Linked DNA regions of Homo sapiens. The protein of the gene in region 3 purifies or fractionates together with the protein of the main gene of each other region. This does not show direct contact. Each region holds a gene or a part of one and is shown on either strand. Other genes may lie near its edges. The genes, in order: MAPKAP1, TSPAN15, IGSF3 and PRKAR2B.

The links.
Region 1: the proteins of IGSF3 (region 3) and MAPKAP1 fractionate together in Homo sapiens (co-fractionation; one large-scale study listed by BioGRID). This does not show direct contact.
Region 2: the proteins of IGSF3 (region 3) and TSPAN15 purify together in Homo sapiens (co-immunoprecipitation; one large-scale study listed by IntAct). This does not show direct contact.
Region 4: the proteins of IGSF3 (region 3) and PRKAR2B fractionate together in Homo sapiens (co-fractionation; one large-scale study listed by BioGRID). This does not show direct contact.

Annotation. Positions count from the first base shown.
Region 1 is NC_000009.12:125,667,947-125,674,181, reverse strand, and holds part of MAPKAP1 (target of rapamycin complex 2 subunit MAPKAP1), read left to right. Parts: intron 1-1,538; 5' UTR 1,539-1,607; coding exon 1,608-1,866; intron 1,867-4,274; coding exon 4,275-4,364; intron 4,365-6,235. UniProt on the Homo sapiens protein: Component of the mechanistic target of rapamycin complex 2 (mTORC2), which transduces signals from growth factors to pathways involved in proliferation, cytoskeletal organization, lipogenesis and anabolic output.
Region 2 is NC_000010.11:69,497,264-69,503,498, reverse strand, and holds part of TSPAN15 (tetraspanin-15), read right to left. Parts: intron 5,291-6,235; coding exon of another isoform or gene 5,220-5,290; coding exon 5,103-5,219; intron 1-5,102. UniProt on the Homo sapiens protein: Part of TspanC8 subgroup, composed of 6 members that interact with the transmembrane metalloprotease ADAM10.
Region 3 is NC_000001.11:116,589,518-116,595,752, forward strand, and holds part of IGSF3 (immunoglobulin superfamily member 3 isoform 2 precursor), read right to left. Parts: intron 6,225-6,235; exon of another isoform or gene 5,816-6,224; intron 5,552-5,815; exon of another isoform or gene 5,467-5,551; intron 3,794-5,466; exon of another isoform or gene 3,634-3,793; intron 1-3,633.
Region 4 is NC_000007.14:107,049,529-107,055,763, reverse strand, and holds part of PRKAR2B (cAMP-dependent protein kinase type II-beta regulatory subunit), read right to left. Parts: intron 1-6,235. UniProt on the Homo sapiens protein: Regulatory subunit of the cAMP-dependent protein kinases involved in cAMP signaling in cells. Type II regulatory chains mediate membrane association by binding to anchoring proteins, including the MAP2 kinase.

The DNA.
Region 1 (6,235 bases), on a different chromosome or scaffold from region 3:
AATGAAGGAAAAAAAAAAGGGAGGCTCAAAAAGGTAAAGTATTTTGACTGAGATCTTATAGCTAACGAGTAATAGGGCCAGGGTTTGAACCCTTTCTGTCTCTAGGGCCTAGTACCTAACCGTTGTCCTGCAATATTTTCTTTGTTGAGTATTTTCACTTAACTGAGAGGGTGCTATCTTGTTACTAGAACAAATATTATTACAGTGTTTTTTGTATGTTTTGTTTTGTTTTGTTTTTAGAAGACAGGGTCTCACTATGTCACCCAGGCTGGAGTGCAATGGTGCAATCATAGCTCACTGCAGCCTTGAATGCTGGGGCTCAAGTGATCCCCCCACTTCAGCCTCATGAGTAGCTATGACTACAGGCATGTCCCACCATGCTCAGCTAATTAAAAAATAATAATTATTATATATATATATTTTTGTAGAGATAGAGTTTTGATTGTGTTGCCCATGTTGGTCTTGAACTCCTGGACTCAAGCAGTCCTCCTGCCTCGGCCCCCCAAAGGGTTGAGAGTACAGGTGTGAATCACTGTGCCCGGCCTCATTACAGTTTTAACAGGACTGAGGAAGCAGTTTTTATAATTAAGTTTCTAAAATAAGAAGTTGATTGTATAGTAGGTAATTTTGATTATAAATTTTATTTTAAAAACACAGGCCAGGCATGGTGGCTCACGCCTGTAATCACAGCACTTTGGGAGGCCAAGGCGGGCGGATCAACTGAGGTCGGGAGTTTGAGACCAGCCTGACCAACATGGAGAAACCCCATTTCTACTAAAAATACAAAATTAGCTGGGCATGGTGGCGCATCCCTGTAATCCCAGCTACGCGGGAGGCTGAGGCCGGAGAATCTTGAACCTGGGAGGTGGAGGTTGCAGTGAGCCAAGATCACGCCACTGCACTCCAGCCTGGGCAACAAGCGCGATACCCTGTCTCAGAAAAAACACAACAACAACAACAACAAAAACACAATACTATCTTGACAGGAAAATATATTCATTGAGCAACATTAATTTGGTGGTACATCATTTTTATAAAACCCCTAGTAACTCTGAAAGCATTGTCTGTGCCCTTTTAAACACTTCACAATCATATGACAGGAGGGGAAATGTAAACTGATGAAATAGAGTTTTGTACTTTAGCACATCATTTGAGGAAAATACAACTTGTTCCCCCATGACCTTATAAAGTAATGAGAAGATTGCATGATAGTGAAGGGAGAAAGAAAGGAAAATATATTGTTTTAACAGTAGTTATGTGCTTCGAGTGGCCTGACTTGTAAGGAGTTGCTGTGATTTGTTTTGCAAGAGTGCAAGCCTTCCTTTCTGATTCTATAGAGATCTCATTGACTAGAGCTGCAGCCCCTAGTGCTTATAAGGATTTCCTTTCAGCTTAGACTAAATCCTTTTAAGCTCCACAGAACAGGGATAAATGTTGATTTTCAAGGTGGCATTTTACTACACTGAATGTGTCTGAAAAATGATTCAGTCATTTTCTGCCTTATTCTTAAATATTTGCTGTGTACATCATGTTTCTAGGTAGGTGAGCTCGTGAAACAATATGAAGAGGAGAAAATAGCCTTTTAAGGAAATTGGCCCACAGAAAGGATGGCCTTCTTGGACAATCCAACTATCATTCTAGCTCATATTCGACAGTCACATGTGACCAGTGATGACACGGGAATGTGTGAGATGGTTCTCATTGATCATGATGTTGACCTAGAGAAGATTCATCCTCCTTCAATGCCTGGAGACAGTGGGTCAGAAATTCAGGGAAGCAATGGTGAGACTCAGGGCTATGTATATGCCCAGTCAGTCGATATTACCTCAAGTTGGGACTTTGGTATTAGAAGACGCTCAAACACAGGTAAACATTGTGTTCTAGTCATGTCTTCTGAGCTTTAAATCAGTAAACAGTCTTATGGAATAATGCATAATATTGGAATAGGCTTAATGGGGGATGTTTCCGGGTATTAATAGGAACATGCATATGTCAGACTAAGAGTGAGTCTGAGCAACATCTCCATCTCTGCGACTGCGAATGGAGAGGGCCTCTAGAATATTATTAGAAGTAGACAGAAGGGGGATAGTGAAAAAGTTGGTTAGGAGAGACATGTTGGACATTTCTAACAAGTCATTGTGTAGAAAGGCAAGTGGACTGGCTTTGAGTGTCTTCACACAGCAACATTAGTCCCAGTAGGTAGACTACCCGGAGACAGATTTCAGGTTGACATAATAAAGAGCATTTAATACAGAGAGGTGACCACCCAAAGAGAGCAGGCACTTCTTGCCCCTGGAGGAATTGTGGGGGAGTGGGGAAATGGGAGGAGACACCTGAGTATTTGTTAGGGCTGGTTTTAGTAGGATTCTATACATAGGGTGTGAGATTAGAAAAGGGGCCCCTGTTTTTGATACTTCGCCTTTATTTTCTTAAATTGATCACCTTTTGATTTTTCTGGCTTGAAAACACTCAACTTTGGTATACACGTATTTAGTCATTAGCTTTAAAAGCTTATTGCCCATTTTCCCACTTATATTTTTTTGGTGGCCTTGTTTCAAGGGGAATGTGATGAACCAAGGACTTTTTTTTTTACTTAGACAAATTATTTAGAATACATATTGTAGTTCTAATATGACAGGTATTCTAGGAGGTAATTTTTTTTAGATAATCAGAAAATATAATCTTCAAATTAGCAGTAACCTGCTAACTCCCAGGAAAGGTAATGGCAAGGAGATATAGTAGAACACTGAAAATACTTACATATTTATTTTCATGGTCCAAATGTAAAACACACATAAAGGAATATTGGAGGTAGAGCTGGATACAATTTACTGTGAAAGGCACATTCAAGTTTTGGTTCAGAATTCAGTATCTGTGACATAAGAATAATTTGCTCTCATGATGAAAATAATTAATAGCATTTCCCAGTATCTAAAGGAACTTTTGTCAAAATAGGATTTGAGTGAAGGTTTGAATATAATTTAGAACCATTGATTTTCAGTTCTCTAGTTGAAACTGACTTCCTTGCAGGTTATTGAGATGATATCTTATATGACAGGTTGAATGTATTTCAGTGGGAGAATGCTGCTAAATTGAGAGCTTTATGATTATATTACTTTGGCTGTACCCTTCACATTTATTAATTGCAATTGAATGTAGTTTTCTTCAGTGTTGGTTAGATATAGTGACATTGTCAGAATGCTCTTCCCAGCATAGTTTAAATTTCTGGTAAGATTATTTTCAGTGTTTCCCTACCACAATGCTAAGGCAGAAGTGTATAATTTCCTATCTTGAAAGAGGCGGAAAAAGAGATGTATTTATTTTCTATTAGCAAAATGCTGGGATAGGAAGCTGAAGATTAGCAAGAGAAAACTGATTTCAAGAGATGGCATCAATTGTGACTTTCTTTTTTATTGTGGTCTCTGTATGCGGCAGTTGTTAAGTGCATGCTGGGTGGTATTTCTCTAAAGGATCAGTTCACTGATTTTTGAAGGTTGATCAGCCAGTGGCAATATAATCACAAATGCATAATTTTAGGTGACTCTTGTTGGAATTTCTTTAGGTAGCACTTAGATGCTAATAATTAATTGAGATTGTAGGTTGTCTTAGTGACCAAAGAATTTACTTTTTAATCCATGCAGCATATCTTAAAATTTTGTAAAAGAAAAATTGTTCTTTTTAAGATTTGACTAATGTTACAAAGATACAAATCATTTATTTTACTACCTATAAACTGTTTCAGCCCACTGAAGAAAAGCTATGCTAATTTATATAGCTTTGACATTTTATAATTTTCATGATTTTTAGATAAAGGATTTTATATTTAAAACTTTAATAGTCTAGTCTGAGTTCATTTATCTTTAATTTTTGAAATGGGTAGAGTAATTCATAACAGTAATTTTATTCCTGTAATGTAATATTCACTTCAGTTCATTTGTGCATTAAAATTCCTTTAAGACCGTTATTAATGATTTATATAATGAAATGTCATATTAATCACAGAAGTTTTCACATTTTATTATTCTCTTCCATGTTAATACTATCTTTATGATCTCTATTAGTGTTTTATATCCTCTAATTTCAATTATAAATCAAGAATATTTTCATGTTTTTGTTGGTATTTGCTTTTCAGGGGTGCCACCTTTAAAATTTTATGACTTTTTCTCTACATATGCAATATAAAACATCTTTATTCATGTAAAGGTAGTTAATTATGTCTTTGTTTATGGTAAACTTTCATTGACAAACTTACAGTTATAATATTTCTTTTCAAGCTCAAAGATTAGAACGACTCCGAAAAGAGAGACAAAACCAGATCAAATGCAAAAATATTCAGTGGAAAGAAAGAAATTCTAAGCAATCAGGTAAATGGAAATGATTTTAATTCTTAATTTGAGATTTATATATTTAGTTTATTATATAAGAACTTTTATTTTTAATTCATCCTTTTAAATCCTCTGGACTTAGATACCTCTAGTGTTTTGAGCTTTGAGCTCTTTCTCTTGTGTGCCTTGACCCTCTGAAGCTATATGCTCTTTAGTTCTTGGCTTTTTGGCCACCCTTCACTCTGGGTCACAGGGATTGATGTGTGCAGGGGACATTTTTTACAAGCTGTCATGTCAGTATTTTTTTCTGATTTTTTAAAAAAATATAGGCCAAGGAGTACCCTATGATTTGATTTTTATTATTATTATTTTTTTTGAGATAGTGTTTCACTCTTTTTGCCCAGGCCGGAGTGCAATGGCACGGTCTTGGCTCACTGCAGCCTCTGCCTCCCCGGTTCAAGCGATTCTCCTGCCTCAACGTCCTCAGTAGCTGGGATTACAGGCGCATGCCACCACACCTGGCTAATTTTGTATTTTTAGTAGAGATGGGATTTCACCATGTTGGCCAGGCTGGTCTTGAACTCCTGACCTCCAGTAATCCACCCACCGTGGCCTCCTGAGGTGCTGGGATTACAGGCATGAGCCACTGTGCCCAGCCGATTTTTTTTTTTTTTTTTGAGACGGAGTCTTGCTGTGTCACCCAGGCTGGAGTGCAGTGGTGCCATCTCGGCTCACTGCAGCCTCCGCCTCCCTGGTTCAAGCAATTCTCCTGCCTCAGCCTCCCAAGTAGTTGGGACTACAGGTGCACACCACCATGCCTGGCTAAGTTTTGTATTTTTAGTAGAGATGGAGTTTCACCATGCCAGGCTGTTCTCGAACTCCTGGCCTCAAGTGATCCACCTGCCTTGGCTTCCCAAAGTGCTGGGATTATAGGCGTGAGCCACTGCGCCCAGCCCCTGTGATATTTTGGATGAGTTTCCAGGTTACAGATTTCTCTTGGCAGTTCCAACCTAGACTTTTCCTTGCCCCATTAGTGGGCCTAGTAACAGTCTTTTTTGCATATATGCAAATTCTTTTCCCTTAGTGTAAAAACCATTATGTTGCTGGTATTATTAGCATTTGCTGTATATTTTCATATAGTATGTGTATAAAGGCTGGCCATATTATATACTTTCAAAGCTTCAGTCTCAGCAAGAAGAAAAGACTTGGGGAGAAAAACAATTTCAGAAATAAAATGCTATTAAAATATTTTATAGTGGTTATATCATGTTTCCTAGACTTTCTCTTTTTCTTCTCCTTTAAAAGAAATATCTGCAGTCTGTCTTCTGTATCCTCCCAGCACCTCCCAATATCATATCGGCATGTAATAGATGCCTAATAAATATTTGTGGATTGGCTCCATTGTTACACAATAATTATAAGTCTAATAATATTAAGGTTTATTATACTAATAGCAGCCTCTACCTCGTGCTCTACTAGGTACTTTACATGCATTACCTCTATTGCAGTGATCTTGCAAGGTGTAGGTATCGTTGCTATTGTTTACAGATAAGACAAAGGCTCAGGGATTTGATGAACTTGCCAAAGTTACCCAACATGGAGGGAAGTGTGATAATGAGATGTTTTGTGTCCAGCTCTGCCTGCATATAAAGGCCAGTCTCTCTGCGCTAAATCACTCTGTAAAGTGCTTCTTGATTTCTCATACTATGGTTATAAACTCAAGTATCCTTAGCAGGTATGATTTTCTTCATGACTGCTACTAAGTGATGACTGTGTAGAACCAGAAGTCCCAATTACTTGTTTTTCTTACTTATATCTCATTCTGACTTGCTTGAATGCAGTAGTTCTTGAATTTCTCTCTAGTTTTACTCTGAATACTTTCAAAATCTCACGAGGCTAGCCCCTTCTGT
Region 2 (6,235 bases), on a different chromosome or scaffold from region 3:
ACATATTTGTTAACTGAGAAAATGAATGAATGAATAGGTTGTGATGATCACAGAACCCACCTCCTAGGGCTGTTTTGGACATAAAGTGAGATACACATATAAAGTGCTTATCACGGGGCTGGGCACATGGAGGAGCACAAGAATGCTGGCTGGCGTGATTTGTTCACAATTCCAGCCCCTGCAAAGGAAAGGGAGGGTGTCTTCTCTCCTTCCGAGAGAGGGTTGGGCCTCAGATGTCATCTAGGTCATTCTAAATGTCAGGGCTTGATGTGCAGGCAAGACGACCTCCCTCGGTTTAGCTGGTTCTCCAGGTAGCCTCAGTCCCAGCCATGCCCAGTGCCCACTGGGCATTAGTCAGCCAGTGTTTTTGGCCCTTCCAGGCCATAAACACAACCCCTATGGAGAGGGTCAGGCCTGGAGAGCAGGTGCACGGGCACATGATGGGAGTGAGTGCTTTCCATCTCATTGGTTCATTCATTTGTTCATTGAACAAATATTAACTGAGCACCTATTGCATGTCAATCCCAGTTCTAGTCACTTGAAATACAGAACAACAAGACAAAGTCCCTGCCTTCATGGAACTTACACTGTAGAAAGGGAGATAATGAACATAACAAATAGGTAAGCTGCATGGTACGTAGGGAGGTGACAAGAGTGACTTCACTGGGCCAGCTCTGGTGACCTCGGGGGATGAGTCTCTTAGCACACAGGCAACTGGCAGAGGCCTCTCTGGCATCAGAGCCCAGAACCCTTCTCCAGGCCCAGGGGGGACTCACCTCACCCTGCCAGGAGAGCCCCTCACCAAGGGGTGAGGGGATACGATGCATCCATAGTCTTTCCAAAAGTAAAGCCTGCCTGGGTTTACCTGCCTGACCATAGAATCGATATTCTGCAAGAGGCTCTGCTGAAGTTCACAGGCCCCAAGACCAGGGTCCAGTAGCCTCTTCCATCCTGCACGGGGCCACAGGACAGGAAGTCAGAAGGGGGACTCCTGGGCAGCCAGAAGATCACAGCAATGTTTGTGTGTGCATCCTCTCACCCTGAAAAGACTGAGCAGCTAATGGGGACAGGGAGAGGGGCCTTCGCGACAGGCCCCCAAGGGGTAGCCAACAACAAGGGAGGGGAGGTACGTGAAAATTGGTCCCAAGAGCTCAGCAGGCACAGCAGTCTGGAGCCATTTAATGTAGAAGCACGCTGCCCTCTGCACCAACATCTCCGAGGGATATATCCTGGTATAACCAGATTTTACAGCCCTATGTGAACTTCTATGGCTCAAATCCTCTATTGGAAGCTCATATAAGACATTTCTTTTAAAGCTGAGTGTTAGGGAAAAGGTTACTTTCCCTGAAGAACTGGTATGTTCTGCTGGTATGTTCTGCTGAACAGTAACAATGTAACAGACCATGTCTCCCTTTTCCTTTTGGTTGCCAGGAAACTCTAAGCCAGTGGTCTCCAACCTTTCTGGCACCAGAGACTGGTTTCAAGGAAAATAATTTTTCCACAGGATGGGGTGCGGGGGGGTGGGGGGTGATGGTGTCGGGATGAAACCATTCCACCTCAGATCATCAGGCATTAGTTTGATTCTCATAAGGAGCATGCACCCTAGGTCCCTTGCATGCACAGTTTACAATAGGGTTCACACTCCTATGCGACTCTAATGCTGCTGCTGATGTGACAGGAGGTGTAGCTCAGGTGGCAATGCTCCCTCAACCTCTGCCCACCTCCTGTTGTGCGACCTGGTTCCTAACAAGCCACTGACCGGTACTGGTTCATGGCCTGGAGGTAGGGGAGCCCTGCTCCAAGCCACCAGACACGAGGCTCAGCTCCTTTTCAGTGAGTCCATGAGGTCCTGAGGCTTAGATAGCAGGATTTTATATTTTTCTCCATCATCTAGGCCTCCTATCTGAGAATACAATTCCCACAGTCCTGATTTTTAATGCTATTTTAGTTTTTTACACTACATATTTCCCGTGTACTCATTCAAATCCCAGGTTGAATAGTACAGTGTAAAATAAATAGATCTGGACACAAATCAACCAGTTCTATGGAGGAAGCGAACGCCCTGTTTCACATTTAGAGAAAATCATCCAGGTGTGGTGGCACAGGGAGACTCAATGGTCATGTGTAACACAGGGTCAGATAACCCCGGCCAGGGGAAGGCTCCTCCCTACCTCAGTGCTCTCATTCAGATGCTGTCTTTAGATTCTACCCTATCTGCAGATGATGTCCGTGTTTACACCCCTTGCCTAGTCGTTCCCAGAACTCCAGACTCCTATATCCAACCGCATCTTTGACACCCCTGATGGGATGCTGAACAGGCTCTCAAACCCCCCACGTCCACGGTGAGCTCCTGGTCACCCAGCCTGCCTCCTTGCAGTCCTCCCCTCTCAGGCAGTGGCAGCCCCGTCTTTCCTGTGGCTCAGACCAAAACCTGGGTATCCTCCTTGATTTCTCTCTTTCATTCATCGCCCACATCTGCTATGCGAGCAAATCCTGTAGGCTTACTTGCAAAATACAGCCAGAATGTCACCACGGTTTGCCACTTCCACCACCACCACCACCACCCAGCTCCAAGCATCTGTCTTCCCCTCCCTGGTGCAGGGATGCTGTGGGGAGCCCTTAGGTGTCAGCCCCCTGCAATAACTACTTCATGTGATCATTAATTTTATATGTCAACATGACCAGGCCATGGGATACCCAGATATTTGGCCAGACATTATCCTGGGTGTCTCTGTGGGGGTGTTTCTGCATGAGGCTAATGTTTAAATCAGCAGACTAAGTAAAGCAGATGGCCCTGCCCAAGGGGGAGAGGTCTCATCTGATCAGGGAAGGCCTGAACAGAACAAAAGACTGCCCTCTCCTCAGTGACCATAAGAGAATTCTCCCTGCTTGGCTACCTTCGGGCTTGAACTGAAATGCTGGCTCTTCCTAGGTTTGAAGCCTGACCAGCCTTTGAATGGGAACTCCACCCTCAGCTCTCCTGGGTCTCCAGCCTGCCGACTCACCCTGCAGATCTTGGGACTTGCCCGCCTCCATAATTACACAAGCCAATTCCTTATCATCAATCAATCCCTCTCTTTCCTCTTGCTGTATTAGTCTGTTCTTGGCTGAACAGAGCCAGCAAGTCCCTTCTTGGGTGGACCACTGGACTCATGCAATGCCTGGTCAATGTGGGTGGGAGTGTGAAGGCCTGGCCCCCTCACCCCAGTAGGGGACAACTCTGAAGGGCTGTCCTCATAGATGTGGCTGAGGCCTCCAGCCGAACTGAGCTGAGGCTGCATCACTGCTCAACTCCCTTCATTGCCCAATCCCGCTTCTGGCTCCCACTTCCACAGGTGTTGATCCAAGAGCACCTTCCTGGACAAGATGACCTATGACCCCTGGATCACTGCATATCAGCCCCTAACTCTATCCCTGCATCTAGCATGTCCCTCACAACAGCCAGACTGATTCTTGTAAAACCAAGTCAGAGTGCCCCTCTTCCATGCAGCCCTGTATGGTCCATCACTCAAGGGTGCCCCACAGTCCTGCCTGTGGCCTTCGGGGTACCCATGACCTCCCTGACTCCACCTCCTACCATCCTCCGCTGTGCTCCCTCTGCTCCAGCCACTCTGTGCATTTCTCAAACGCCCTGGGGTGATTCCCACCTGGGGCCTTTGCACAGCTGTTCTTGCTGCCAGGAATGCCCCTCCCCCAGACACCTTCCTCACTTTCTTCAGAGCTTCACCCAGATCCCGCCTTTCTCAGTATCCCAAACTGCAATCCTCCATGCCCTACTTTCTTTTTCTACTCAGCATTTATGATCCTCTATCTTTTACTTATTTTGTTTGTCAGTTTTCTCCACTAGGATGTCACCTCCTTGCGGGCAGAGACTTTGTTTGCTACACCCCCAGAACCTGGAAATGTGTCTGGCATAGAGTAGGTTCTCAGCCAATATTTGTTGAATGAATGAATGAATGAATGAATACAAGTTTGGCTTCCACATCTCAGCTTAGGTATTCAGATGCTGCTGCCCTGGGTGATGAGGTTCAGGATCACCCCACGCAGGCCTCTCTGGAAACTCTGCTACTCCTCAGCACCCCACTTCCCAGAGAACTACCCTAAAATGGCAGCTAACACTTCCAAACAAAGCTTCCCTCCTGGCCCGGCCTTTTTTAGAGCTAGTGCACTTGGCACTGGCTCTCTGACTCATGGGCGAGGCCCCCACCCGCAGCTGCTCAGTTTACAGAATCCAGCAGTGGGCACAGAATGGTGGCAATGTCAGGAGAAAAACTTTCCATGACTATCTGGGCCATGAGTAATTGCAAAGCTCTCCACCTCGTTCCAATCCTGAAACAGTTTCTGGACACATTTGTCAAACACAAGGACTGATGAAGCCTTTCACTTAAGCGCTGACAACACAAGACATCATCCCAAATGACCAAGGTGACAGACCCGAGAGGATCGTGCTGGGGAGAGGAAGAGGATGGCATTTACGTCACCAGACCCCCTTCCAAGCACTCTGCTGCTGATGATCACCAGGACCTCAAGGCCAAAGACCAATGGAGATGCCCAAGGTGCAGGTCCTGCCTGCCTCCACTAATGCTGCAGAGCCAGCTACCCCCGCTAAGCTCCCCTGGCCTGGGCACCTCTCCCTCCTGCCCTCACCTGGCCTGCACAGTTCTCCAGAGTGTAGCTCAGGCAACAGCTGCCTGCACTTCATCCCAGCCCTGCCAACCTTGGGCAAGACACCCAGCCTTTGAGTGCCTCAATTTCCTCATCTGTAAAGTGGGTAAAATAACAGTACATACCTCACAGGGTTGTCGTGAATACTAAATGAGTAAATACCACCAAAGTGCCCAGAGCAGGCCTGCACAAGGTAGGTGCTCAATAGATTTTAACCAACACCACTAAGAAAGACATGGTCTCCCTACCCCCGACCCCCAGAAGCTCCACTTTCAGGAGCCCTTGAGAATCAGGAAAGCCTCCGCTCTGCCACCAACTCCTACTTCCCTGCCATCCACCCACACCACCCATCTTCAAGTTGGGAAGAGAGAAAAGAGAACATTTATACCACCTGGGGTCCCCGACAGCCCCCCAGTCCCCACAGGAGCAGTGTCTACCGTGTTCCTGATGCAGCAGGTGTAGGGCACCCCACAGGCCAGGGGTCCAGGGGCACTGCAGTCGTGGTACTGATTCTTGCTCCAATCTCGGTAGTCCTCCCCGCCACAGCACTTGAACTGAGGGAAGCAAGCAGGAAAGAGGAGCTGCCGTCATCGCCCAGGCCCTGCTCAGACGACAGGAAGGGGCCCTGTCAGGAGACGGAGGCAGTTTATTATGTGGGTCACCCTGGGGCAGGGAGAGGCTGTACACTTTCAAGTCAGAGCTGTCAAAGTGTGGCATGGCTGCCTAGAGGGTAGTGAACCCCCTGTCACTAGAGAGGTATGGAAGCCAAGGCTGGGCTGCCTCTTGGTGGGATATCAGGGTAGTGACTAGGCACTGGGAGGAAAGGTCCTTCCTTGACAACTGGCCTCCACTTTCTTCATCTTCGTGTCCCCAAATGCAGGTGCTAGGCTGGAAAAGATGGCCCTTAAAGTCCCAGAGACCAAGCATGATTCTGTGAAAGTCCCTGCACCTCAACCAACCTTCGCACCCACCCTAGGAGCCACCCCGTCCAGCTCAGCTGGCCCTGCCCTTAGCAAGGAGAGCACCCACACCTCACAACCTGCCTGGAGCTCTCCCCTTAGCCGAGCCCCTCCCTGCCTCCCCTCCCTGCTCCTGTAGGAAGTAGTTGGTAACCCTCCTGATGGCTGGTATGTGCCTGGCATTGTCCTGGGCACTGGAGAGACAGGGTGAGCAAAAGCAAGGCAGCCCTTGCTCAGGTGGAACACATTCCAGTGGAGAGACAGAGAGTGAGCACTGGATGGAAAGGTGCTGTGCAACCTGGAAATGGAGAAATAGGGGGAAAGTGGGGAGGGGCAGCTCTAGGTTGGCAGGTCATGAAAGGGCTCTTTGTAGAGAGGATATTTCATCTGAAACATGGAAACAGAAAGAAGCCAGACGACCCATGCAAAGGCCCCACGCAGAAACAAGCTTGTATTTCAGCAGCAGGTGCGGAGGCCAACAAGCCTGGAACAGAGAGAGTGCAGAGCATGAGGATGAAAGGGCGGCACAGGCTGGACCATGCAAAGCTTTGCCAGCCAGCTGAAGCAGGGAGCTGGGACTGGAGGGCTCAACCAGGGCTGCAGTACACGTC
Region 3 (6,235 bases):
TCATCTCTCACGACTCACCCTCAGGCACCCTCCACAGGCGCATGCCCCTGGTGCAGTTTCCCTGAGCCCTGGCCTTTGCCCTTGCTGTCCTCTCTGCCTGTCTCCTTCTGCCACCTCCCACCCTGACCCTTCTCTCCACTTATCCCTCATTCCCGTCCCCCTGGGCTCCATACCCTTCCTCAGCACCCTCTATATATCTCTGGGCTGTGTGTCCTCACATCTCTCTCCCATATCCTAGATGGTGAGCTCCCCCAGGGCAGGGATCAAACTCCTTCCACTCAATCAGCCAGTATTTACGGAGTGCCCACTCGGTTTCCCACAGGATGCTAAGTGCTGGGGATGCCCTGAAGAGTAAGCCGGAGTCCCAGCCCTCATGGGGTGGACTGCCTAGCGGACATTCTTATCGCTGCACCCCCAGAGCCTAGCACAGCACCTGGGCCAGGAAAGCATTTGATCAGTGTTTGCTGAAATAGGTGAACGAGTGGGTGAGCGAATGAGAGCACGTTGGAGAAACACGGCAACAGGTAATTAGAGGATGCTGCGGGCGGGGGGAGAGGGGGCTTCCTCTGGGGGAGTGAGAGAGAAGGCTGAGAAGACAGTAAACCACGGGACAAGGCAAAGCCAACTACAATCCTCCCTTCTCCTCACTGTCCTGCTCCAAAAACAGACAAGAGGGCAGCCTGTGGAGCGCCTCCCCAGCAGCTAATTAATGACGATGTTCACCTTGCCAGTGGCAAGAAGCCAAGGTCTAATGAAATCCATCTTAGGAAGGTGATTTGAGATCTCACCCACCCCATCATCATTAACCTCGGCTCTGCATTCCCCTACCCAAGCCTTTCCCGCTACTAAAAATGAAAAAAAAAAAACAAAAAAACAATTCTAAGTTCCTCTTAGGGAACTAATAGTACAAGAATTGTTCCACCTCCACCACTCTCTTCACACTTAGTTTTTCCGCCACAGGGACCAAACCACTTCCCAGCTGAGAAAGAAAGCAGGGGCAAGGTGCAGATTCCACCCAGGGACAGCAACCTAGGCCTCCTCCAACCGAGCTTGTGTGGAGGGCAGGGGCAGGGGCAGGGCAGGGATGCCTGGCCAGGCTCCAGCACTCTACTGGTCAGACTCTTGTCTCTTTAGTCCAGCTCAACCCCAGGAACTGCATCCAGACCCAGGACCCAGCCCACTGGTCATGACCCTGGCCTGCCAGCTGGCTTAAGCTTGGTTTGGCAGCATCAAGGGTTGATTGAGTCCCATGCATCACAGAACCAAAACTTGTGAAAGCCACAGACTGCCACTTGGTCTCCCTGTAACACACAGACAAATGTTCTGAATGGATGGAAGGATTTAGCAAGCCAAGGTGTGGCAAAGTCCAATTCCCAATGCCATGACTGAGCAACACTGCGGAGCATCTCCCGCAGTAAATCGGACATTCTCTCCAGGAAGACTTGTTGAATTCACAAACCCACAGACCTTCTCACGCCATCAAGAACACACCAGGCACCACTTAGAGAGAAATCCTGTGTGCCACGGCCCCACCCTCCCGGGTTCATCTTTTTTGTTAGCAAGTCCAATCTTCTGCCTTCTCCCTTCTTCAAATGCAGAAAGTCCTCTAGGGCACACTAGGAATCCAGGACAGGGTTTACCATTAAGCTCCCAAGCTCTGGAAACTAGATTTGCATTCGCTTGCCAGTCGACTTTTCAGATTGGATTCCTATAATACTTGAAACAACCGGCTCCCTTTTCATTCCTTTCCAACCCAATTCACCGCATGCAAATGATATCTATATCAGTGCAAATGACACCACCTGAATTATCTGGTTCTTGGCCAAAAAAACTGGGTTGTTCAGCATGGAGTAGAAAGAGCTTTAAAATGTATTATTAATTGGGGCCGGATTATTTTTGCAACTGTTACTAAGGAAACCTCAATTGCTATAGTAACTGCATATGTTAAACTGGAATCCTATGACTAAACTTCTATTCAGTCACATGGTCTGAGAACATGAATTCAAGGAAGAGAAATGTTTCAAAGCATTTCCATTTTTTTTCCTTCCCATGTCAAAATATTGTGAAGTGTTGAGAAGCTTGAAAGAGAGGCATTTTTTAAATTTGGTGCACGTCTGACAGGTGGGCAAGGGGTCAGCTCCTATTCTATGCTCTGGATTTCCTCCCACATCTCCAGGGCAGGTAGGACCTTTCCTGAGGCACAGGGGAGACTGGAATCTCCACATATAATTAGGGAGCCCTCCCATGTCCTGCCAGAGCCCTGCCCTGGGCGGTGTACAGCTTGCGTGCACCACCTTCCTCCACAGAGCTAGGAGAGCCCTGCCCACTTAGAGACCACAGGTGTTTTCATCTGCAAAATAAGAACAATGTCTCTATCTCCATTAGGAGTTTTGTGCAGACTAAAAGCAATGGTCTATAAAAAGAGTTTAGCACAGAACCTGGGATATAACAAACACCCAGTGAATTTTAGCTATTCTCATTCCTTTTTGGTTTCTGTGCCTTGTCCCAAGTTCAAAGTTCAACACTTAGAATGGGAGTTGTCAAGCATAAGTGGCAATCTTCCTGCTCAAAGTGCTGTTCTCGGACCAGCAGCACTGGGAGCTTGTTAGAAATGCAGACTCTCAGGCCCCACCCCAGACCCAGTAAGTCAGAATCTGCACTTTAACAAGATCCCCAGGTGATTCACAAGTAGCTTCAAGCCTGAGAAACCCTGGACTTGGCCGTGTGAGTGAATGGGCTTTGAGAGGCCATAAATGCAGACGTGAAAGAAAAGAGTGAGGCTTGGTTAACCCCCAACAGTGAATTGGCAGGAGGAAGAAAGAATCCAGCAAGAGACAGGAAGAGGGTCCGAGAGTTGCTCCAGCTCACGCCAGCAGCTGCCTTCACAGCAGCCCCCAGAGGCCAGGCCCTGCTTTGAGGGAGTGGCCCTTTCTTTCTGCAACTGGAGAGTTTCCTTCCCAGGCTTGTGATTAAAACTTGGAAGATCTGTGTTTTGTATGGTAGGAGAGGCTGTTGTGTTTGTTACAGGCCAGGATAGGGTGGTTTCAAGGTGAGACATCAGGAAGAGGGAAGAACTTCGCAGCGGAGACCAGCAGCAGCTTTCTCAGCCAGCCTACCCTCCCTTCGGATTCCACTCTGTGCGTGCTCTTCTCACTCAAAACTCATTTATTTCTTCAATAAAGGATTCCCTTACGCTCTACTATAGCTGTGTTACTGCTGCCTTACAACGAAGGTAATTCTTAAAATCTTCTCTTTCTTACAAAATTCTAAGCATATGCAGGGCAGGGACTCTGACCCAATCATTGTTAAACTAATCAATGAATGGTTGAATAAATGTGGTTACTTTTCAAAAGGAGGGGCAATTCTGATTTTGATAGAAAAGAGAACATTTCAAAAGGTATATGGCCCCTGAGCTAGGCCCTGAGAAACAAGCAGAGAAGGAGAATCAAAGGGCACGCCAGAGAGAGGGGACAAGAGGAAAAAGATGACAACTACCCTGTGCACTCTATTCAAGGAGGAGCAAGTGCTCAGGTGTAGTGGATGAGGTTAGAAAGGTAAGCTTCGGCCACACTGCAAGGGGCCTGCAGCTTGTACTTGATCCTGACCACCTGTGGCCCTCAGGGTGCACGCCATGGATCTGCAGATCAGCATCACCTGGGAATCTGCCAGCCCCTGCTAAGTCAGAAAAACTGCGAGTAAGGCTCAGCAACCTGCAGTCTCATGAGCCCTCCAATTGATTCTGATGCACATTCAAGTTTGAGAAGCAACAGCCGTGCTGCTGAGGTGGTTGCCGGTAAGTCTGGAGAAGGTGGTTTCTGTGCAGTGCTGTGAGCAGCAGCCAGAGTGGCACGTGCAAAGAGATGGGCACTGAGGGAGGAAGACACTGCTCTTTATTAAAGACAACAGACAGTAATGCTAGAGATAGAGGCGGCCAGTGGCTGCGGCAGGAGATGTTTCAAGTGGAGAGAAGCAAGTCAGATGAGAGACAAGGAAAGAATGCAGGGTGAGCTGCATGGGAAGCCAGTGGCACAGGCGCCTGCCAGTCAAACTGTTACTACCCCTGAGTCCCTCTGTCCTTAACACCCCTTGGCTCCCTGCTCTCTCCACATGACCATTCCCTATTTGGGCCCTCAATGATCTCTTTCTCAGGCTCTTGTAATTGGCCTGCATATGACACTCCCTCCCTCTCAGCCTAGCCACAGCCAGGGGATTTCCCTAAATGGCAAATGGGGCATGCTACTGCCCACGGCTGCCCACCCCACAGCCCGTGACAGCAGTTCTCAATAAGGCAGCTAATTGCAAGCAGGTCTCTGGTTGCCATATTGATTTGGGGAGGGGTATATATTCAATGGAATAAAGCCATTAAAGATGTAAAATTGTATCTGGGACAACTCCATGCAACAAAACTCTGCCTCGTGTCCTGTGTGACTTTCGAATGACATTCATATGGGCAAAAATTATGCCTCTGGGCCTAGAACCTACTTTCGTTTTACTATAATCACAATACTTTTATTTTGCATGGTTTTAAAATATGCCAGGTCAGTCAAGAGAGGATTTTCCTTTGTTTTGTTCAGAATTGTAGCAAGAGTTACTCAGGACTTCAGAAACCCTGTCAGGATGGCAGTCCTGCTCATGGTGCCAAGTCTGATACAGTGACTGTCAGTGTGCATTTAGAGACAGCGTTGACTGTGACTGTGCCTCCTAGCATAGCTGTCCTGAGCATTTACGCACTGAAACTCATTATTTTACTATGAACTACTTTTTTTAAAAAAAACTTTCTTTATCCCACAACTAGGACAATATAGCAAATTTTAAAGATATGATTAGGAATGTTATATTGTATATGAATTTCATTTCTGGGTAAAGGGAACATTATAAATTATTACAAAAATGGAGTATATGATCTGGGTATGAGCTAAAGTCCTAATTTCTGAGTTTAGGATATTCTCATTTATTTAGCAAACTTTCATCTGGTCCTATGTGCTCAGCACTATTCTAAGCACTTTATAAATATTAACTATTTGGTCCTCACCAATCCTATGAAATAAATATTATTCCCAATTTTATAAAGACACTTGCCCAAGGTCACACAGCTGGCTTAGTGGTAGAGCTGGAATTCAAACCCAGGCCGTCTGGTCTGTCCTTGCTTTTAGCTATTACATATGCCCACCCTCACCCCATGCTCCCATGTACAAAAGGGACTTCTTGATCCCTGCCAGCTTGCCTGGGGGTGAACCCTCCCCAGACCCCATGCTTTAGTCATCTCAAGATAAGCATGCTGCTCCCACCCTCCGTGACTATATTTATTCACACTCTTCTCTGAGCCTGAAATGCTCCACTCCTCCTTCCCAACCTCCCACCCTCACCCCTACCCCATTCCCTCCTCACGCCCCCTGCCCCCGTTCATGCCCTGTGCTGGCTCTGCCTCCACACCTGTAACGCTTTTCTGCTCTCCTTTGTCCCTAGGCCTGCTGCCTCCCACAGAGCCCGCAAGGCAGGAACGTGACACACCCATCTCAGCAGCCTCACCAGCATGGCAACCTGGCACTTAGTAGGTGCTCAATGCATGCAGAGAGACAGGGAGGGAGGGGCAAGGGGAAAGCAGCAAGAGTCTGCAGGTGGAAATAGCTAATGAAGGTTACCCAGATGTGCCCTACCCTGCCTTACCTGTCTGCAGGTAGGGCAGTGACCCTGGCTCCTTGATGCCAATAACAAGTGCCCCGGTGTTACCATGACAACAGGCCTGAGGGATCTGGGAGGGGCTGAGCTCTCCTCTTAGGGCTCTTGCACTGACACCCATTCTATCTTGGCACAGACAACAGGCAGAAGCCACCTGGGATGGAAGAAGGAGAACCCCAGACTCCCCTGAAAGAAGGCAGAGGCCAGTCCTCTGAGGGATGGGGCAGCCATCCCTCAGAATGTGAAAGGAGAGCCAGTGTTCACATGCTCTGGACTCATGGAAGTCAAAGAAAAGCCCTCTGCTATCCCAATCTGCCGGGTCAGCAATAAGAAATAGAAGAAAACCGATTTGGCAACATCCAGAGGGTATTAAATATTCATCCTGACTGCCCATCAGTAAAATCCCAGCAGAATACACCCTCTGACAAGTCGGCTTTCCACCACTAGAGGCTGTCCTCATGGAAGCTTGTTTATGGCTTTGTCAATTTTAATGTACAATATTTAATAGCCAAACCAAGATATTGTCATAAACATTTGGAAAATGAGTGCTAACATT
Region 4 (6,235 bases), on a different chromosome or scaffold from region 3:
AACCTACAGAATGGGAGAAAATTTTTGCAATCTACTCATCTGACAAAGGGCTAATATCCAGAATCTACAATGAACTCAAACAAATTTACAAGAAAAAATCAACCAACCCCATCAAAAAGGGGGCAAAGGATATAAACAGACACTTCTCAAAAGAAGACATTTATGCAGCCAAAAGACACATGAAAAAATGCTCATCATCACTGGCCATCAGAGAAATGCAAATCAAAACCACAATGAGATACCATCTCACACCAGTTAGAATGGCGATCATTAAAAAGTCAGGAAACAACAGGTGCTGGAGAGGATGTGGAGAAATAGGAACACTTTTACACTGTTGGTGGGACTGTAAGCTAGTTCAACCATTGTGGAAGTCAGTGTGGAGATTCCTCAGGGATCTAGAACTAGAAATACCATTTGACCCAGCCATCCCATTACTGGGTATATACCCAAAGGATTATAAAACACACTGCTATAAAGACACATGCACACATGTATTTATTGTGGCATTATTCACAATAGCAAAGACTTGGAACCAACCCAAATGTCCAACAATGATAGACTGGATTAAGAAAATGTGGCACATATACACCATGGAATACTATGCAGCCATAAAAAAGGATCAGTTCATGTCCTTTGCAGGGACATGGATGAAGCTGGAAACCATCATTCTCAGCAAACTATCACAAGGACAAAAAACCAAACACCGCATGTTCTCACTCATAGGTGGGAAATGAACAATGAGAACACATGGACACAGGAAGGGGAACATCACACACTGGGGCCTGTTGTGGGGTTGGGGGATGGGGGAGGGATGGCATTAGGAGATATACCTAATGTTAAATGAAGAGTTAATGGGTGTAGCACACCAACATGGCACATGTATACATATGTAACAAACCTGCACGTTGTGTACATGTACCCTAAAACTTAAAGTATAATAAAAAAAAGTCTATTTAAAATATTTACATGCCTAAGAAGTTTTCAATCATTTTACATTCATACACATTTACCATTAGACAGTGTTCAATATTTTAAAAAACATTTGCACACCTACTGTGAGCAAAGCACAACACATACAGGAAAGACTTAGAAAGAGAGGGTATATTCCTGCACATTCTTGCCTACCTAGACTGAGGACCCTTGACATCTGCAAAGTTGACTGATGGAGGCCATATTCATCCTACCATATTGATAGTATTAACGTCAAGGAGGGAAACTTGCAAAAATATTTGGTAGGGTAAAATATAAACTAAACCTTTGGGAAAAGAGTGAGATTTAGCAGAAAGACAGGGAGAGGGGAGTGAGAATTCAGGACCAAGAGAATGACTTAAGACAAGAATATTTGGCTATATCAATTTAGAATCATGTCATGTGCCGCTATATACCGTGGTTTTTGTTTGTTTTGTTGTTTTGTTTTGTTTTGAGATGGAGTCTCACTCTGTCAAGCAGTGCTGCGATCTCAGCTCACTGCAAGCTCTGCCTCTCGGGTTCACGCCATTCTCCTGCCTCAGCCTCCCGAGTAGCTGGGACTACAGGCAACTGCCACCACGCCAGGCTAATTTTTTTGTGTGTATTTTTAGTAGAGACGGGGTTTCACCAAGTTAGTCAGGATGGTCTCGATTTCCTGACCTCATGATTCGCCCGCCTCGGCCTCCCAAAGTGCTGGGATTACAGGCTGTGAGCCACCACACACGGCCTACTGTGTTTTATTTACTACTTAATGCATATTTACAAAAGAATTGCCTTTCTTTCATGTATTTTTACACTTATTTAATAGGTAATCCAAGCACATGCTAAACATTTTTCAAAAGTTACAAGAAAGCAAATAGTGAACGATCTCTCTCCTAACAAAATAACCTGAAATACTCTATGAAATTGCATTTCTTTTCAACTATTCTAAACTTTAGACTTTCTTCTAATTCTGACTGGTATTTCCATAATTTACTGATTCCTAACCAGAAAACTATAATACGATTCTCTTTGTCCCATCCACAAATGTTGCACCAAAAACATTACCACTATACAATTGGAATTCAAGGTATATACAGGAAAACAGGTTTTAAAAGAAAAAGCCTGGATTTTCCCCTTCAGGTAACGTAGTTTTACTTCCTTTTTATAAGATAGAATTTTCCTCTGTATTCTGCCAACTTCTGTTGAGTCAATTAACTTACCGAGTGACTGTCTTTTAAAAAAGACACACACACACACACACACACACACACACACACACACACACACTCTTTATAATCTAGAAGCTTGAATCAGGGAACCAAAATTGATCATGGCTACTTTATATATTACTAGAGTATCAATTTAAGTGGTATTGTTTACAGCTGTAGTCTCCAAAACGGGGTTCATGTATGCCAAAACAGTGTATAAGGCTATATGTTGGGATGTAGGAGAAAATTACAACTTGCTTAGAATTGCTTTTTACTTTCTCCTTTCAAAATTTATATTGTAGGAAGCTTTATCATACATATAAGTCAATATATTGTCACATGTATAAAATTTATCAACATATATTGGGGTGTACACTCAAATATATTTTGCTAATAAAGGTATATAATAAAATAAATTTAGAGAATTAAGCAGCTCAGTACATGAGGTGATTATTTCTAAAATAAATAAATGTAGGCTGGGTGTGGTGGCTCTTGCCTATAATCCCAGTATTTTGGGAGGCTGAGGCAGGTGGGATCACTTGAGGCCAGGAGTTCCAGACCAGCCTTGCCAACATGGAAAAACCTTGTCTCTACCAAAAATACAAAAATTAGGCAGACATGGTGGCACACACCTGTAATCCCAGCTACTCAGGAAGCTGAGGCAGGAGAATCACTTGAACCCAGAGGCAGAGGCTGCAGTGAGCCAAGATGGCACCACTGCACTCCAGCCTGGGCAACAGAGCAAGACTCTGTCAAAAACAAAATAAAATAAAATAAACAAATGTACTGAGTTTCTAAGGTACATGAAATGCTAATTTGGGTTGAATAGACAGAGAATGCAAATTGTAAAAGGGAGAGATCAATGCAGGGCTAGCCTGCAAACTTTTAGAGGGAAAAGTAGGTAGCTTATTTTTTGATATGTGCTTATTTTCAACCACGTTACTGCTAAAAGAATTACTGAAATGAAGTGTATAAACCGTGGTTGAAGAGGAAGACCCTGAAGTCAGATTACCAGGTTCAAACCTTGATTCCACCAATTACTCTGGGGAAGACTAAATCACATATGTGTAAAGCATCTGTTCAGATGACAATGTGTAAAGCACTGTTCCACATCTGATACATCAGTAGTCAAAAATGTTAATAATAACTAGTATTAAATAAAAAGGACACCATTTATTTATTTTTTTGAGACAGAGTATACCTCTGTTGCCCAAGCTGGAGTGCAGTGGCGCAATCTCGGCTCACTGCAACCTCCGTCTCCAGGGTTCAAGCGATTCTCCTGCTTCAGCCTCCCAAGCAGCTGGGATTAAGGCGCCCGCCACCACGCCCAGCTAATTTTTGTATTTTTAGTAGAGATGGGGTTTCACCATGTTGGCCAGGCTGGTGTCCTATTCCTGACCTCAGGTGATCCGCCCGCATCGGCCTCCCAGAGTGCTGGGAATTATAGACATGAGCCACCGTGCCCGGCCTAAAAGGACACCATTTAAAAGACATTAGTTTTCTATAATAATGAGAACGAAACAGCCGAATCATGTTTTAATTCAACATGACCTTTGAAAAAGATGCTCTTTGGGTGTAACTGAAATATATTAGAACAAATGGAACAAACGGCTTTTTTCCTTCTCTTTTTACCCCCCAAATTCCCCTCAACATCACTCCCATGGACTATTTTGTCTTGGAACAGCTAATGTAAATTAAACAATGTCATCCTTAGTCAAACAGATACAGGAATAACTGTATACAGTATATCTTCTTGGCTTCACTTTTATGTGGAACATGTGTTTACATTTTGACCTTTTGTCTTTTTTTTAATTAAGAAACATTTTTAAACAGCAGCAACTGGAAAGACTTTTTTTTTTAGTTTCCAAACATATTAAGCTACACATGGCAGAGCCTATTGCTGAAACATTTATAAATGTTACACCAACTGTTTATAGTTCTGATTTTCTTATTTGATTGTTTTGTTGTCATGTAAGCCATGACCTGAAAATTTTAGCTCAAATTCTTTCCATAAAATTACATAATGAAACCGTCTGAGTCATTTTGAATTTGTGAAGCACAAAATTCGCTCTCATAAAATAATGATAAGCATCATAGTGAGGTTTTTAGAGTAGGATTTTGTGACTGTCCCAACCACAACTAGATGATATAGATAAGACAGGAAGGACAAGAACAGGATCAAGAACACAGTAACAATTCATTCAATTCAGAAAAATCACTGCATTCTTGTTTCTTTTCCATTGTCTCTTCTTAAGCAAGTGATAGGAAAATATAGTCTAATATTAGATTTCACTTCATTGAAAAAGAATCAAAGAACAAAAAAACCTGGAAATTCTGAAGACAAAAGTACTTTTCTTTAGCCCATCCTTTTAAACCTTATCAATCAACTTGATGGAAGACAGAAAAAATTCATATGATGTAAGTTAATATAAATAGCGCACAAAATGTTGGCAACAGTTGTATGAACAAACTCAAATTTATAAGGCCAAAACCTACCAAATTTGGATAAGGAACTTCTCTGTCTCTCACCTGCCCCATCTATTAACAAAATTGATCATACATACTATCTATGAGGCCATCTCTGACAAAAGGATGGTGTCTTAAGTCTAGGCAGGGAGCAGTGGCTCACGCCTCTAATTCCAACACTTTCGGAAGCTGAGGCAAAAGGACTGCTTGAAGCCAGGAGTTCAAGACCAGCCTGGGCAAGAAAGGAAGACCCATCTCTACCAAAAAACAAACAAAAACAGAAAAAAATGAAGTCTAAAGAGAGTAAATGTAAGACGAATCATTTCTTTTTTCTTAAAATAAGAACTATCCTACCTTCCAAGTTTCACACATTGTTTCTAATAGGCCATCCCAGATCTCAGCACTTTCTGTGATTCTCCACACTTCTAAAGTAGACCCTGCAGTTAGTCACTTCAGTCTTCTTCACTGAATCTCTCACCTTAAAATATTCCATCATTCCCCAACCTCCACTGTAGGACTTTATTACTACTACTACTGACAAACGATTTTCTTAATGGGTCAAAAATAAACCCCAAATTGATGGATTCATAGGTCCCCTGTTTGTATTTGCACAACTGAAAAAGAAACACAATTGTTTTTCAACATAGCTGTTAACAAAATCTTGACGGCTGGAAATTTACTGGAATCCATGGAATGAGATTTGCAACAATAAAATAACCATTCAATATTCACTCCTGTTCTACCCAGACACAGCACATCAATTTATGTGCATCCACAAAAAAAAAAAAAAAAAAAAAAAAAAAAAGCTGGTAACTGTCTTATCTAAAATAATAGCTAAATGGTTTGGTTTTTGATAGAAAAATTAAAGTACTAATGCTTCAATTTCTGTTTAGGTGTTTCCATTGTATGTCTTCAAAGTGTAAGTTACTCAAGCAAGCCTTCACAACTGGTTTTACTTCTCTCTTGCTCTCTCCCTCCCCCTTTCCCTTCTGACTTCATTATCTTTCTCCCTCTACCACCCTTCTTCCAAAGCCCAAAGTAATAGATGGTAAGAGAAGGGGTTTTTTGGTTTCCCAATTTCAACCCCTAAAGCAATCCACCTACTATTACTAGTAAAATGAATAATGTTCTTAACTTCTGCTTTGAAAATCACAATCACTATCTCTAACTCAAAATAATTTTTATTATCTTTTCTGACACTATTGTTTTATGCTCATAACTAAAATAATGGCTTCAATATTTTAGCCATTGTCATGAATGATTTAATCCATTTCAGGAGGATTTAAAACCACCATGTAAATCTCTAATAGCCAAAAACTATAAAGTCTCATTAATTACAAAATCCTGGAGCTCTTAGCTACAAATTATGAGCTGAAAAGATATGGATTTTATTACTGTATAACATTAAATCCTAAGTAAAACTGCCACATAAGCTCATTCCCTGCTTCACCTCGCCAAGAAGTGCAATACTGGATTCATTTCCATAAAACACAATGAAATTGCTATTCTGCAAAAAAAAAAGTATATAACTCTGTAAGATTTTATATCAATGATATAAACTTTACAATATTTTGCTTGACCTTAAGGATGTTTTGTAAATTCTCCAAATT